Linked DNA regions of Homo sapiens. The protein of the gene in region 1 interacts with the protein of each later gene in a biochemical or structural test. Each region holds a gene or a part of one and is shown on either strand. Other genes may lie near its edges.

Evidence for each region. The genes of interacting proteins can lie anywhere in the genome.
Region 2: the proteins of TMED1 (region 1) and SEC23B interact in a test that uses a peptide from one of them, tested with the Homo sapiens proteins (one study listed by BioGRID).

Annotation. Positions count from the first base shown.
Region 1 is NC_000019.10:10,833,213-10,840,381, reverse strand, and holds the start of TMED1 (transmembrane emp24 domain-containing protein 1 precursor), read left to right. Parts: upstream 1-4,169; 5' UTR 4,170-4,190; coding exon 4,191-4,373; intron 4,374-4,641; exon of another isoform or gene 4,642-4,779; intron 4,780-4,790; exon of another isoform or gene 4,791-4,850; coding exon of another isoform or gene 4,851-4,919; intron 4,920-5,028; coding exon 5,029-5,126; intron 5,127-5,264; coding exon 5,265-5,448; intron 5,449-7,168; coding exon 7,169-7,169. UniProt on the Homo sapiens protein: Potential role in vesicular protein trafficking, mainly in the early secretory pathway.
Region 2 is NC_000020.11:18,524,940-18,531,963, forward strand, and holds part of SEC23B (protein transport protein Sec23B), read left to right. Parts: coding exon 1-81; intron 82-848; coding exon 849-993; intron 994-1,433; coding exon 1,434-1,592; intron 1,593-2,556; coding exon 2,557-2,672; intron 2,673-5,740; coding exon 5,741-5,864; intron 5,865-7,024. UniProt on the Homo sapiens protein: Component of the coat protein complex II (COPII) which promotes the formation of transport vesicles from the endoplasmic reticulum (ER).

The sequences.
Region 1 (7,169 bases):
TACTGCACTCCAGCCAAAGTGAAGGAGTGAGACTGTCTCAAAAACAAAACAAAACAAAAAACAAAATGCAAAGTAACAAGTGTTGGTGAGGATGTAGAGAAACTGGAACCCTCATACGTGGTTGGTGGGAATGGAAAACAGTACAGCCACTGTGGAAAACACTTTGGTTGTTCCTCAAAAAGTTAAACATAGAAATACCATAGGATCCAGCAATTCCACCACGAGATCTATACCCCAAAGAACTGAACGCAAGTAATAAAATACACATACATACATGTTAACAGCAGCTGTACTCACAATAGCTAAAAGGTTGAAATAACTCTACTGTCCCTCAATAATGAATGGCTAAAGAAATTGTGGGGCCAGGCACAGTGACTCACAACTGTAATCTCAGCGCTTTGGGCACTGAGGCAGGAGAATCACTTAAGCCCAGGAGTTAAAGACCAGTCTGGGTAACACAGGGAGACCTCTTGTCTCCACAGAAAAATAATTAGCCAGGTGTGGTGGCGTGCACCTGTAGTCCCAGCTACTTGGGAGGCTGAGGTGGATCACATGAGTTCGGGAAGTGGAGGGTGCGGTGAGCTGTGATCACACCACTGCACTCCAGCTTGAGTAACACAGCGAGACTGTCTCAAAAAAAAAAAAAAAAAGAACAAAAGAAAAATTGATTGTGGTATGTACATACAATAGAATACTACTCAGCCATAAAAAGGAATTAAATATTGATACATGGTCTAACCCTAGAAACATGCTAAGTAAAAGAAGTTCAATACAAATGGTGACACATTGTCTGCTTCTATTCATATGAAATATCCAGAGTAGGTAAATCCCTAGAGGCAAAAAGCACATAGCTAGTTGAGAGGCGGGGGGCAAAGTGTAATGAGGAGTTGATACAGGAGATAGAAAGTATTTAGGCAGGCAGTGAGGGCAAAGAGTCCTCAGCAGAATTTCTTTTCTAACAGAAAGTAGCCCCTGATATCATTTCTTTTCTAATAAATAGCAGCCTGAAAACTCAAGCTGCAAACATAGATAAGGAAGCTGGAAGCTTGCACGTGGGAATGCTGGCAGCTGCACCAACAGAAAATGGCTACCTGGGAGCCAGGCATATCCAACACGGAGGCTCCATCTCCCCTTTTTTGCTACCACGTGTACAGGAACTAAGAAATGGGCAACATGGGGCTGGTCAAGGTGGCTCACACCAGTAATCCCAGCACTTTGGGAGGCCAAGGTGGGCGGATCATGAGGTCAGGAGTTCAAGATCAGCCTGGACAACATGGTGAAATCCTGTCTCTACTAAAAATACAAAAAATTAGTTGGGCGTGGTGGCAGGCACCTGTAATCCCAGCTACTGAGGCGGGAGAATCCCTTGAACCTGGGAGGCGGAGGTTGCGGAGAGCCTAGGTCACGCCACTGCACTCCAGCCTGGGTGACAGGGCAAGACTCTGTCTCAAAAAAAAAAAAGAAAAAAAAAGAAAAAGAAATGGGCGATGTGGCACAGCTCAGGTAGAGACCCCGGCTGCATAATAAAAGATTAGCAGATACCAGAAATTCACACCCTATGCAAATGGCACACCTGTTCTAACCAGTTTTTCATCCCCTATGTAAATCAGGCTAAGTCTCCTCACCAGCTCATCTATAAACCCCCCTGTATTTTGCTATGGACCAGCAACCCATTTTTCTGGGACTCCTCTCTGTAGCAGAGAGCTATACTCTCCGTTGCCTATTAAACGTTCGTTCTCAACCTCATTCTTTTGTGTGTCCTGGTCCTTGTTCTTCGTGGCTGTGAGACAACGACCCCGGGTGTTACTCAAGACAACGAGGCCGTTTCAGAATCACTGCTTAATGGGTACAGGGATCTTTACTGAGCCGATGAAAATGTTTTGGAACTACATAGAAGTCACTGCACAACACTGGAATGTACTAAATGCCACTGAATTGTTAATTTTAAAATGGTTATTTTTATTTTCTTTTTGACACGGAGTCCTGCTCTGTCGCCCAGGCTGGAGTGCAGTGGCATCATCTGGGCTCACTGCAAGCTCCGCTTCCCAGGTTCACACCATTCTCCTGCCTCAGCCTCCAGAGTAGCTGGGACTACAGGCACCCGCCACCACGCCTGGCTAATTTTTTGTATTTTTGGTAGAGACGGGGTTTCACTGTGTTAGCCAGGATAGTCTCGATCTCCTGACCTCATGATCCGCCTGCCTTGGCCTCCAAAAGTGTTGGGATTACAGGTGTAAGCCACCACACCCGGCCTTAAAATTGTTAATTTTATGCAATGTGAATTTTACTGTATTTAAAAAAATCAATTTTAGTAATCCCAACACTTTGGGAGGGTGAGGGAGCAGGCAGATGGCTTGAGCCCAGGAGTTTGAAACCAGCCTGGGCAACACAGGGAAACCTCATGTCTACAAAAAATTAGTTAGGCATGGAGGTGTACACCTGTAGTCCCAGCTACTCAGGAGGCTGAGGTGGGAGAATCACTTGAGCCCAGGAGGTAGAGATTGCAGTGAGCCATGATGGCGTCACTGCACCCCAGCCTGGGCAACAGAGCAAGACCCTGTCCTAAAAAAAATCCGGCCGGGTGCAGTGGCTCACGCCTACAATCCCAGCACTTTGGGAGGCCGAGGTGGATGGAACAGAAGGTCAGGATATCGAGACCATCCTGGCTAACATGGTGAAACCCCCTCTCTACTAAAAATACAAAAAATTAGCCAGGTGTGGTGGCACGTGCCTGTAGTCTCAGCTACTCGGAAGGCTGAGGCAGGAGGATCGCTGGAACCCCAGGAGACGGAGGTTGCAGTGAGTCGAGATCGCGCCACTGCACTCTAGCCTGGGCAACAGAGGGAGACTCTGTCTCAAAAAAAAAAAAAAAAAAAAAGGAAAAAAAAATTAAAAAAAAAAAGAAAAAAAAGAAAAGGAGTCACCCGTTCTCCACTGTTACTTCAAATTGTCCAAGCAGTGAGTGTAAATGATAGAAAAAGTTGGAGTGAAAAGGAATACCAAACTGATATTACAAAGAGCTACTTCCCCAAATTCTCCAAATGCAGGAAAGTGCTGACAACAGCCAGCTGTATTTGAGGGATCTTTGTCATCACCTGCCAACCTTTTCCGGGTTTATCTTTGAAGACTAAACATCTCCCTGTACACAGTTTATGTTTAGACGGGAACCAAATAACAGATTATTATTTACTGAGGGCCTGTGATGTCCCACGCACTGCGGAAGCAAGCACTCAACAAGCATTTCACGTATCCTAAAGACAGCCCAGTAGCGTAGGCCTATTATCCCCATTTTGCAGAAGAGGAAACTGAGGCTCAACAGAGGGAATGCCTCAAGTAATGGGTGGGGCAGGAGCTGAACCAGGCAACGTGGCTCCCAGTCCCACACTGTCCTTATCTCTTCCTACCTGGGCTGTCGTTTTTCTGACCCGAGGCTACTGTAATGGCTCTATTTACCTGCTGGCCCTTGAGTCTGAGACCCTTGGGGTGCATGGTGGGGCCACGCCCCTCCACTGTCTATAAGCCAGGAAAGCTGAGCACTCAATATGAACCAAGCCTCATCTCAATTCTCACAGCCGCACTACAGGGTGGTCGTTCCATCACTCCCGACTTACGAGGAAACTGATACGCTGATGCCTCTAAGGCGCAAAAGGCGTCGAACCTGGACCACGCTCACAGAGCAAGCAAAACACGACGCCACAGGTATCTCCGCCCCGCCCCAGCCCTTTTATAGGCGAGCCCTACGGGTCGCGTACAGGGCCACGCCTAGACGCTATTTTTGGGTCCACTCCACCACGTCGGTCCCGCCAAAGGTTGTCACGCGCGGCGCACTCTGGGAAAACCACGTGGAGGTGACTAAAAAGGACCCTGCCGCCTGTAACTTTAGTTGTCTTAGCTACTGCCTACAAAAGATGCGCCATCATGGCACTTATTTTTGTAATTTTCCTCCACCAGCGGCCGAGAAGAGAGCCGAAGCCTTTGAGAAAAATATTCCCAGACGGTTGAGTGTTTCTGGGCACATCAGGCATTCATTCGGGCCGCCTGCCCTCTAGTGGGGGGGTCCTTCACTCCTGGCACCTCTGGTTACGGACAACATACAGAAGCCACTGCCAATGAGCTCCGCCGAGTAGCACCGGGGCAGGGCTAGCGCTTAAAGGAGCCGCGACCCCTTTGCAGACCAGAGGGTGACCCGGATGATGGCGGCCGGCGCGGCCCTAGCCCTGGCCTTGTGGCTACTAATGCCACCAGTGGAGGTGGGAGGGGCGGGGCCCCCGCCAATCCAGGACGGTGAGTTCACGTTCCTGTTGCCGGCGGGGAGGAAGCAGTGTTTCTACCAGTCCGCGCCGGCCAACGCAAGCCTCGAGACCGAATACCAGGTAGAGGGTCGCGGGCTGGGCGGCCAGCAGAGTCAGGGAGAGGGGGCGTGGCCAAGCGGTCGAGGCGAGGCGCGCTTTAGGAGGAAGGGGGAGGAATCCGTGCTTGGGAGCGCGGGGGCGGAGCTAGAAAGAGATGGACAGATGGGGCGGGGACGGTGTGTGGGAGCGGAAGGGGAGGGAGTAATGAAGCAGGCGGGGCTAGAGTAAGAGATCCAGAGGGGGCGGGGCCATCGATAAGTATAGGGAGCCTCTGAGAGGACAGGACTCTGGCTGGTGGGCGTGGCGATAGTGCTGATAGGTCAACTGCGGGGGCGTTGCCCACACAGGCCTTTCTCGGGGGTTAGACTAAGGAAAAAGGCTGGGCCTATCCTCTTTCGGAGGCGGAGCCAACCAGGGGCGTGGTCAGGTAAACGTCCATTAAGTACTTTTGGTAGGTGCGTGGTCAGCTGAAAGTATGGACCCCAAGCTGTCATATCAATGAGGGTGGAGGCAAGGGGCGCAGCCACTGGGACAGGTTGGGGCGGGTGTGGGTGTGCCGCCGTTCAGGTAAGCCCTTGGTGGTCTGTATTGATCAGTGTTGGTTCAGCCGTAGCCCTCTTCGGCAGGCGCCCTTGGCCTACCGCTAGCCCTCCACCCGCTCTTACCTGCCCCCCAGGTGATCGGAGGTGCTGGACTGGACGTGGACTTCACGCTGGAGAGCCCTCAGGGCGTGCTGTTGGTCAGCGAGTCCCGCAAGGCTGATGGGGTACACACGTGAGTTCAGTCTTGATGCCTGCCTGGGTTCAGTTACAGCCCTGCCCTTCCCAGGCGGCCTCAGGTTACCGCCCTGACTGCCCCGCTGAGTCGGCTGGCTGGCCACCCTGGGTCATGTCTGTGTGTCTGTCTGCCCAGGGTGGAGCCAACGGAGGCCGGGGACTACAAGCTGTGCTTTGACAACTCCTTCAGCACCATCTCCGAGAAGCTGGTGTTCTTTGAACTGATCTTTGACAGCCTCCAGGATGACGAGGAGGTCGAAGGATGGGCAGAGGCTGTGGAGCCCGAGGAGATGCTGGATGTTAAAATGGAGGACATCAAGGTGTGTCCAGGCTGCGCTGGGGCCACTCCTTCCAGATCTCTAGGATTCACCTGGGGTGCCCCCCTTGGGCTGACCCAGCCTCCCCTCCGTAGTTGTGCCCTCCAACTGAATTATAGTAAGAGTAGCAGCTCTTAAAATAAGTAGTTCATTTCAGGCCGGGCACGGTGGCTCACGCCTGTAATCCCAGCACTTTGGGAGGCTGAGGCGGGTGGATCACCTGAGGTCAGGAGTTTTGAGACCAGCCTGGCCAACATGGTGAAACCCCGTCTCTACTAAAAATACAAAAATTAGCCGGGTGTGGTGGCGGGCGTCTGTAATCCCAGCTACTCAGGAGGCTGAGGCCAGAGAATGACTTGAACCCAGGAGGTGGAAGTTGAACCTGGGAGGCAGAGGTTGCAGTGAGCCGAGATCGCACCATTGCACTCCAGCCTGGGCAATAAGAGCAAAACTCCGTCTCAAAAAAAAAAAAAAAAAAAAAAGTAGTTCATTTCTAGGTATAAACCCTGGTGTAAAGGTTTAAGGAACTCATATCATAAATAACTCATACCGTAAATCTCCAAACCACCTTGTGAAGCAGACCCTGTGCTCAAGTCATCCCCATTTTACAGGTGGAGAAAGTGAGATACAAGATGGCTGAGCAACTCACGGCCACACAGACCAACTAGCAGAGTTGGTATTGAACCCATGCTGGTTTCAGCAACTATGCTCTTAACCACAAGCAAATATGTTCTGTACATTTATTAGTATTTTAATTAACTACTTATTTATTTATTTTCTAACAGATCTCTCTTGGTCACCCAGGCTGGATTGCAGTGGCACGATCTCAGCTCACTGCAACCTCTGCCTCCCAGGTTCAGCCAATTCTCCTGCCTCAGCCTCCTGAATAGCTGTGCCACCACGCCTGACTGACTAATTTTTGTATTTTTAGTAGAGACAGGGTTTCACCATGTTGGCCAGGCTGGTCTCGAACTCCTGACCTCAGGGGATCTGTCTGCCTTGGCTTCCCAAAGCTCTGGGATTACAGGTGTGAGCTACGGCGAGGCAAGGTCTTGCTGTGTCACTCAGGCTGGAGTGCAGTGGTGTGATCATAGCCCATTGCAGCCTCAAACTCCTGGGCTCAAGCAATCCTGCCACCTCAGTGGGACTACGGGTGTGCACCACCATGCCTAATTTTTTGTTTTCTGTAGAGACGAGGTTTCACCATGTTGGCTAGGGTGGTCTTGAACTCCTGGGTTTAAGTGATCCTCCTGTGTTTGGATTACAGGTGTAATCTTGCTTCAGCCTCCTGAGTAGCTGGGATTGCAGTTGCACATCACCACCCCTGGCTAATTTTTTGTAGAGATGGGGTTTTGCCATGTAGCCCAGGCTGGTCTCAAACTCCTGGGCTCAAGCGATCCTCCCACCTCAGCCTTCCAAAGTGCTAGGATTATAGGCATGAGCCACCATGCTCATCCTTGTACATTTATTTAGGCATTAAATGTTCACAGCAATTTGGAAGCTTATAGAAGAGGAAACAGGCTCAGATAGGTTAATTAAGTTGCTCATGGTCACAGCCAGTGAGTGGCAGGGTGAGGATTTGAACTTAGCCTGAACAAGTCTGTGTTTGCAGCTGTACCTCCCAGGGTTAATACAGCCTCCCTCCGTATCCCCCGGTTTTTTTGGTCTCTGCTCCCTGATGGGTGGAGGGAGGCCTGACCCTTCCCCTCCCGCTGCCCTGTAGG
Region 2 (7,024 bases), on another chromosome or scaffold:
GTTGGGCCTGACCAAGCCAGCCATGCCCATGCAGCAAGCACGACCTGCACAACCACAGGAGCACCCTTTTGCTTCAAGCAGGTGAGAGCCCAACATGGAGTGTTACACGTATTGTGATGGACATGCAGATGATCCATGGGAGTAAGGGAAGAAAAATATTAGAATTTGTATTTTCTTATTATTAGAGAAAAAGATAAATGATTAAGCCTAATCAATATTCAGTGTTTTGTCAAAAAGGTTTGGAGACCACTGTGCTCAATTGCTGTTTTTAGACATTCCACATCTGATGTCCTTTTTGATGCTTAAGTAAAACTGGAAAAACTGAAAAGACTTCTTTCATGTGTCCTCAAACATACTTATGACCGGGTATTCACTTGACTCAGCCCATTGAGTGCCTAGACTGAGCTAACAAGCTCGATAAAATGCATTGCCCGACATGCTGAAGACAACCTCTTACTTTCAAGGCTTAAGAGAAGCACAGATTAGAATGATGAGGAATGATGAAGATTGTCCACATAAATGGACCTCACATAGACTGAACTCATGTTAGGCATGTCCTTAGGATTTTTTTGCTGTCTAAAAATTAATTAAACTGAATTGCTCCTTTTCCAGACAATTTTTTTTTCCGTGCAACATAAGTAAATTGCTAAGTACTGGGCTTTATATTCCTCAATAAAACTGCTTTAAATTGTTTTGTGTTAGTAGAGAGATAGCTTTGAAGAAAAAAATTACCAGTCAGTTACTACTCTGAATAATTATCTTGAAGAGCAGTAATTATGTGGCACCTAGTGTTGAAGACCAGAGTACTTTATTCAATCTGGGTTGATGTGTCTGTTAAAATCTTGCAGATTTCTGCAGCCTGTTCACAAGATTGATATGAACCTCACTGATCTTCTTGGGGAGCTACAGAGGGACCCATGGCCAGTAACTCAGGGGAAGAGACCTTTGCGATCCACTGGTGTGGCTTTGTCCATTGCTGTTGGCTTGCTGGAGGTAATTTAAAATTTACCAGGACCTCTCAAATCATACAAATGTGCTCTCAGAAAATATATTTGTTGGCTTTGTTTGAAAATCACTTGTGATCTAAGTCAACCGTCTGTGTTAATGTATCAGAAAGCATTTGAGGCATCATTATCATTCACGTTGAGGGAGCCCCTCAACATTTTGAAAATGCCAAAAGTTTTCATTGAAAAACTAAGAATTAGAGCAATAGGGAGCACTCAAACAGCGAATTAATAAAACTGTGCAAACCCATAAGGTTGGAAGAAGACAAGTGCTGCTTTTCTGCATTATCATCTGTATTATTCTGCATTATCACCACTTTTTAGGACAGCTGGAGAGAATGCATCTTTGGAGTATTTCTATTGGGAAACTGAAACCATACTAAAAGGTGAGGCTGTATACTTCTAACATGCTGCCATTCGCTATTTTAGGGCACTTTTCCAAACACAGGAGCCAGGATCATGCTGTTTACTGGAGGTCCCCCTACCCAAGGGCCTGGCATGGTGGTTGGAGATGAATTAAAGATTCCTATTCGTTCTTGGCATGATATTGAGAAAGATAATGCACGATTCATGAAAAAGGCAACCAAGGTAGGTGCTCTTGGGTATGGGCTGTAATTCTGAAAGCCCATTGTCAGGTTTGGGCTGCTCTGGAGTGACAGCTACTTTGCCAAGGTCATGTGTCATGGTCAGCAAGACGCTGTTTCAGAGACAGTTTTCCAATCTTAGCTGCTGTTAAATTATTGCTCCTACTTTCAGACCTTAATTAGAGTGGGTGGCCTTAAAACTACTCAAAGGGTTTTGAGAATGAAAACTATATTTTTATTTTATTCAGATATTTTTGAAAATGATTTCCAGGCCAGTCCCGGTGGCTCACGGCTGTAATCCCAGCGCTTTGGGAGGCCGAGGCTGGCAGATCACTTCAGGTCAGGAGTTCAAGACCAGCCTAGCCAACGTGGTGAAACCATATCTCTACTAAAAATACAAAATTTAAGCCAGGAGTGGTGACTCACGCCTGTAGTCCCAGCACTTTGGGATGCCAAGGTGGGCGGATCACTTGAGGTCAGGAGTTCGAGACGAGTCTTGCCAACATGGCGAAACGCCTGTCTGTACTAAAAATACAAAAATTAGCTGGGCATGGTGGCATGTGCCTGTAATTTCAGCTACTCGGGAGGCTGAGGCACGAGAATCCGTTGAACCTGGGAGGCAGAGGTTGCAGTGAGCTGAGATCGTGCCACTGCACTCCAGCCTGGGTGACGGAGTGAGACTGTCTCAAAAAGTAAATAAAAATAAAAATACAAAAATTTGCTGGGGATGGTGGCGCACGCTTTTAATCCCAGCTACTTGGGAGGCTGAGGCAGGATGATCACTTGAACCCGGGAGGTGGAGATCGCACCACTGCACTCTAGCCTGGGCAACAGAGAGAGACTCTGTCACAAAAAGAGAAAAGAAAATGATTTACATGTTTTTATATTTGATTACCTCCTTCGGTAATTCAGGCATACCTTGGGAATAATGTCACTGTTTCCTAAAGATAGCTTTCCTCTCTTCACAGCACTATGAGATGCTTGCTAATCGAACAGCTGCAAATGGTCACTGCATTGATATTTATGCTTGTGCCCTTGATCAAACTGGACTTTTGGAGATGAAGTGTTGTGCAAATCTTACTGGGTATGTTGACAGTGAAAACCTGGGCAGAGTGACAGTGTTATTTTAAGGAAAGAGAAATTAGTGATGGAGCCATAGGAATGGGCAAGGCCAACTCAGAGAAGCTTTCAGGTAGCTCTGGGCTATGGTTTCAGTGACTGGGGAGGGCCTGTGGGCTCCTTGGAGAGGGAAGTAGTGATTAGTAGGAGGGCTCAAGAGTTCACTACAAATAAGTCGTTTCAGAGTAACTTATTTCTTCCTTAGAGTTGTTAACACTTTTACAGAGACCAGGCCAAGAAAGCAAGCAGCATGGACTATCTGGCCTTCATCAGGGCACTTCCTTTTGAGAATTGGGGAAAACAGGGTCTGAATGCTGAAACAACTAGGATAAACCTGGCTAAGTGGCCATACTTTGTGACTAACTCCAAGTGCACTCAGCCTAGAGGTTGTACTGACTCAAAGCCTGAGTCAGTATTGTATTCACAGGCCAGAGTGTGGAGCAGTGGTTCTCAACATGTGGTGGTGTCCAGATTTGCAGCCTTAGGGGCTCCTGGGAACTGATTGGAATTGTATATTTCTAGGCCTTACCCAGACCTCCTGAATCGGAAACCCCGGGAATGCAGCTCTCTAGGAGATTCTAGGGCACATGAAAGTGTAGGAACCACTGATGAGCACTGGTCTGCAGCTGCCTACGTATTGTTATCACCAGGGGAACTTTAAAAGCTACACTTTCTTTAGGTCTTGTCCTCAGAGATTCTAATTTAATTAGCATGAGGTGCAGCCTGGGCATCAGCATTTTAAAAGTTTCTCCCGTGATTCTAACATAGAGCCGAGTTTGAGAACCATGCAGCATCTTGAGCCTCACTCTAGACCTGAATCAGAACCTGCATTTGAACAATATCCCAGGTGATTTGCATGCACAGAAGTTTGAGAAGCATCATAGAGCTGTGGAATGGGCCTGAGAGTCTGCATTTCTAACAACCCCACAGGTGATGCTGCTGGTCCCCAGTGAGTAAAAGGAATAAAAGGTAGAACCAGAATCAGTTGGAGTTGTCCTAGAGAGCAGCAGATGAGTTAGGTGATAGAATTAGGGTCCCAAATGATACTGATGTAGCTATCTCAGTAATCCACATTTAATAGTATGAATTCCTACCACGGCCTTCCAGGAGTTCTGACTCGGAATGTCCATAGAAAAGCTTTAGTGTATTTGTGAACATCCCTTAGATTGTATGCTAGTTTGTGTGAATTTTTTCTGTGAAGAGTTACCATCTGTTGCACACATGTGTTAGTATAGCTCAAGGTGAGCCAACAGTGTGGGATGACTTCCAGCAAAGGCAAGGTGATTCCAGGCTGTGCTATAGGAGAAGATTATCTTCAGGGAAGACCATATTCTTGGTTTCTTTGGTGCTAGTCACACCTTATCCAAATACATTGTTTTCTGTTCTGAACATTGCAATTTCAAGGGGCAATAGGAGATGAATTGGAGATGTTTGAAGAAGAGCAGTGGTGGAGAGTCCTGGAAACTGTCATGTGAGGAATGATTGAAGTAGCTGGAAAAGATTAAGCTGAAGACACATGGGGGTGTGAGAACTGTATTCAGCAGTTGAGGGACTTCCCTGTGAAGGAATCTGATTTGTTCTGTATGTGACCAAAGAGTGGAACTAGAACCAAACCAGTGGGTGGAAGCTGCTGGCAAATGAAATTTCACTCAATATCAAGAAGGGCCTTTCTTAACAGAGCTGTTCAAACACAGAATGGACAGCTTGGGGAGGAAGCTCCCAATGCTGGAGGAGTTCAAGCCTAGTCTGGATGTAACTTGGCAGGTATTTTGCAGAGGGTTTGGTTGAGTGTTAGTATTAGAGTTGTGTGAATGTCACAGAAAACCCACAATAAGTTTATTTCTCTGGCGGTAGGCAGTCCGGGGCTGGTATGTTGCTTTCGTCATCATTACGGGCTGAGGCTCCTACTAAGCTGCTCTACCACCATTCATATGCCATCTGTGGCTCAAGACAGTTGCTGGAGCTCTAGCCATTTACAGCAGCAGGAAGGAGGAAAGGTCAGAGAAGGATTGCTCTTCCTGGAGGAACACACTCCACATATAAAGGACACAGCAATAGTCAGAACGCACATGCCAACAGAGGCACATGGCCATAGGCAAGGCAGGCTGGAAAATGTCATTGTTCCAGGAAACTAAGGAAGAGGTAGATATTTGGTGCCAAAGAGCTGACAGACGGTTCAGGCACTCTGAGATGGCCGGACCAGATGATCTTTCTTGTGTTCTTCAAGATTCTGAGATCTTGTTTTATGAATGACGTTTGGAGGCATAACTTGCGTCAAGCTGTGCTTTTCTGTCCAAATGCATGAAATGCTGACATTTTGCACAATGTTTTCCTCTAACTTCAGTAAGGGATTAATATTAATACTCATGAGTTGGAAAACATAATTCTTGTAAAGTCAAGAATTCAGTATTTTGAGGCAGTAAATTAACCTGAAAAGGATTTCCCACAGGCCTGGGTATTTTCCCATACCAAAGAACTGTGAGAGGAATTAGAGCTGTTCTTAAGGCTTCTGTTTAATGCTTTAGAAGTAGTTTCTTTGCCAAGTATGAATTTAACATGCTGTTTTTATTTTTTTAATTTATTTTATTATTTATTTACTTATTTATTAATTTTTTTTTTGTTTGAGAAACAGTCTTGCTCTGTCGCCCAGGCTGGAGTGCAGTGGTCCGATCTTGGTTCGCTGCAACCTCTGCCTCCTGGGTTCAAGTGATTCTCCTGCCTCAGCCTCCTGAGTAGCTGGGATTGTGGCTACTAATCTTTGTGTTTTTAGCAGAGATGGGGTTTCACGATGTTGGCTAGGCTGGTCTTGAACTCCTGACCGCAAGTGATCCGCCCTCCTTGGCCTCCCAAAGTGCTGGGATTACAGGCGTGAGCCACTGTGCCTGGCCTGTTTTTTTATATTTAAATTAATCAGTGGCTCTTTTGGGGACCTGGTTTCTTTTTTTCTTTAAATTATTTTTGTAAATACTGAGGGAGCATCTGAATGGCTTTCAATCTTCCTAATATTCACTTGATTTTTTTCTTCTTACCTAGAGGCTACATGGTAATGGGAGATTCTTTCAACACTTCTCTCTTCAAGCAGACATTCCAAAGAATCTTTACTAAAGATTTTAATGGAGATTTCCGAATGGCATTTGGTGCTACTTTGGACGTAAAGGTACGGTAAACTTTTTTTTTTTTTTATGTGGACTCACTGTACTGCCCAGGCTGGTCTCAAACTCCTGGTCTCAGGCAATTTTCCCGCCTCAGCGTCCTAAAGTGCTGGGATTATGAGGCATGAGCCACTGTACCTGGCCATACTTTTAAAACTTCAATGAAATTATAGTGTTCTTACTTTTTCAATCAATATCCAGACTTCTGGCAACCTCCACCTGCTGGACATGGGCATGTAAAAGCCAATTAAAAGGATCTCAACCAAATGGCTATTAAAAGCATGTTATTCACTTTATCCCTTTGCTTCTTGAGGATGACCTATATATTTATTTATGTTCTAAGTAACAAGCTGCCTGGTTCACCCTCAGGCTCTGCTCCACCCTGCTTCAAGGCAGTAGGAGATAGAAGAGGAAGTAGGGTGGGTGTTATGAGCAGCACTGTGGCCTGAGGACAGGGGCAGCCACACGGTGGTCTGCATCCACCCAGCCATCAGCATGGCTCACTGCATTGCACAGAGACGTGGTTATGTTTAATGTCTTCCTGAAGAATAGCCAAAGTACTCTAAAATAGCACTGGGCCAGGCATGGTGGCTCATGCTTGTAATCCCAGCACTTTGGCAGGCCGAGGTGGGCGGATCACCTGAGGTTGGGAGTTCGAGACCAGCCTGACCAACAGGGAGAAACCCCATCTCTCCTAAAAATACAAAACTAGCCGGGCGTGGTGGCACATGCCTGTAGCCCCAGCTACTTGGGAGGCTGAGGCAGGAGAATGGCTTGTACGTAGGAGGCGGAGGTTGCGGTGAGCCAAAATCCTGCCATTGCACTCCAGCTGTGGCAACGAGTGAAACTGTCTCAAAAAAAAAAAAAAAAAAAGACAGCATTTTGAGATTTTTTTTTTCCCATGTAGGGACTCATGGCCCTGATACAGCTGATTCTAAGTCATTGAGAAAGCATTAAAAGAGGGTGTTAGGCCAGGCACGGTGGCTCATGTCTGTAATCCCAGCACTTTGGGAGGCCAAGGTGGGGTGATTGCATGAGCTTTGGAATTACAGACCAGCCTGGGCAACATAGCAAGACCCTGTGTCTACAAATGATTTAAAAAAAAAAAAATTAACCTCGTGTGGTGGTGCACACCTGTGGTTCCAGCTACTCAGGAGGCTGAGGC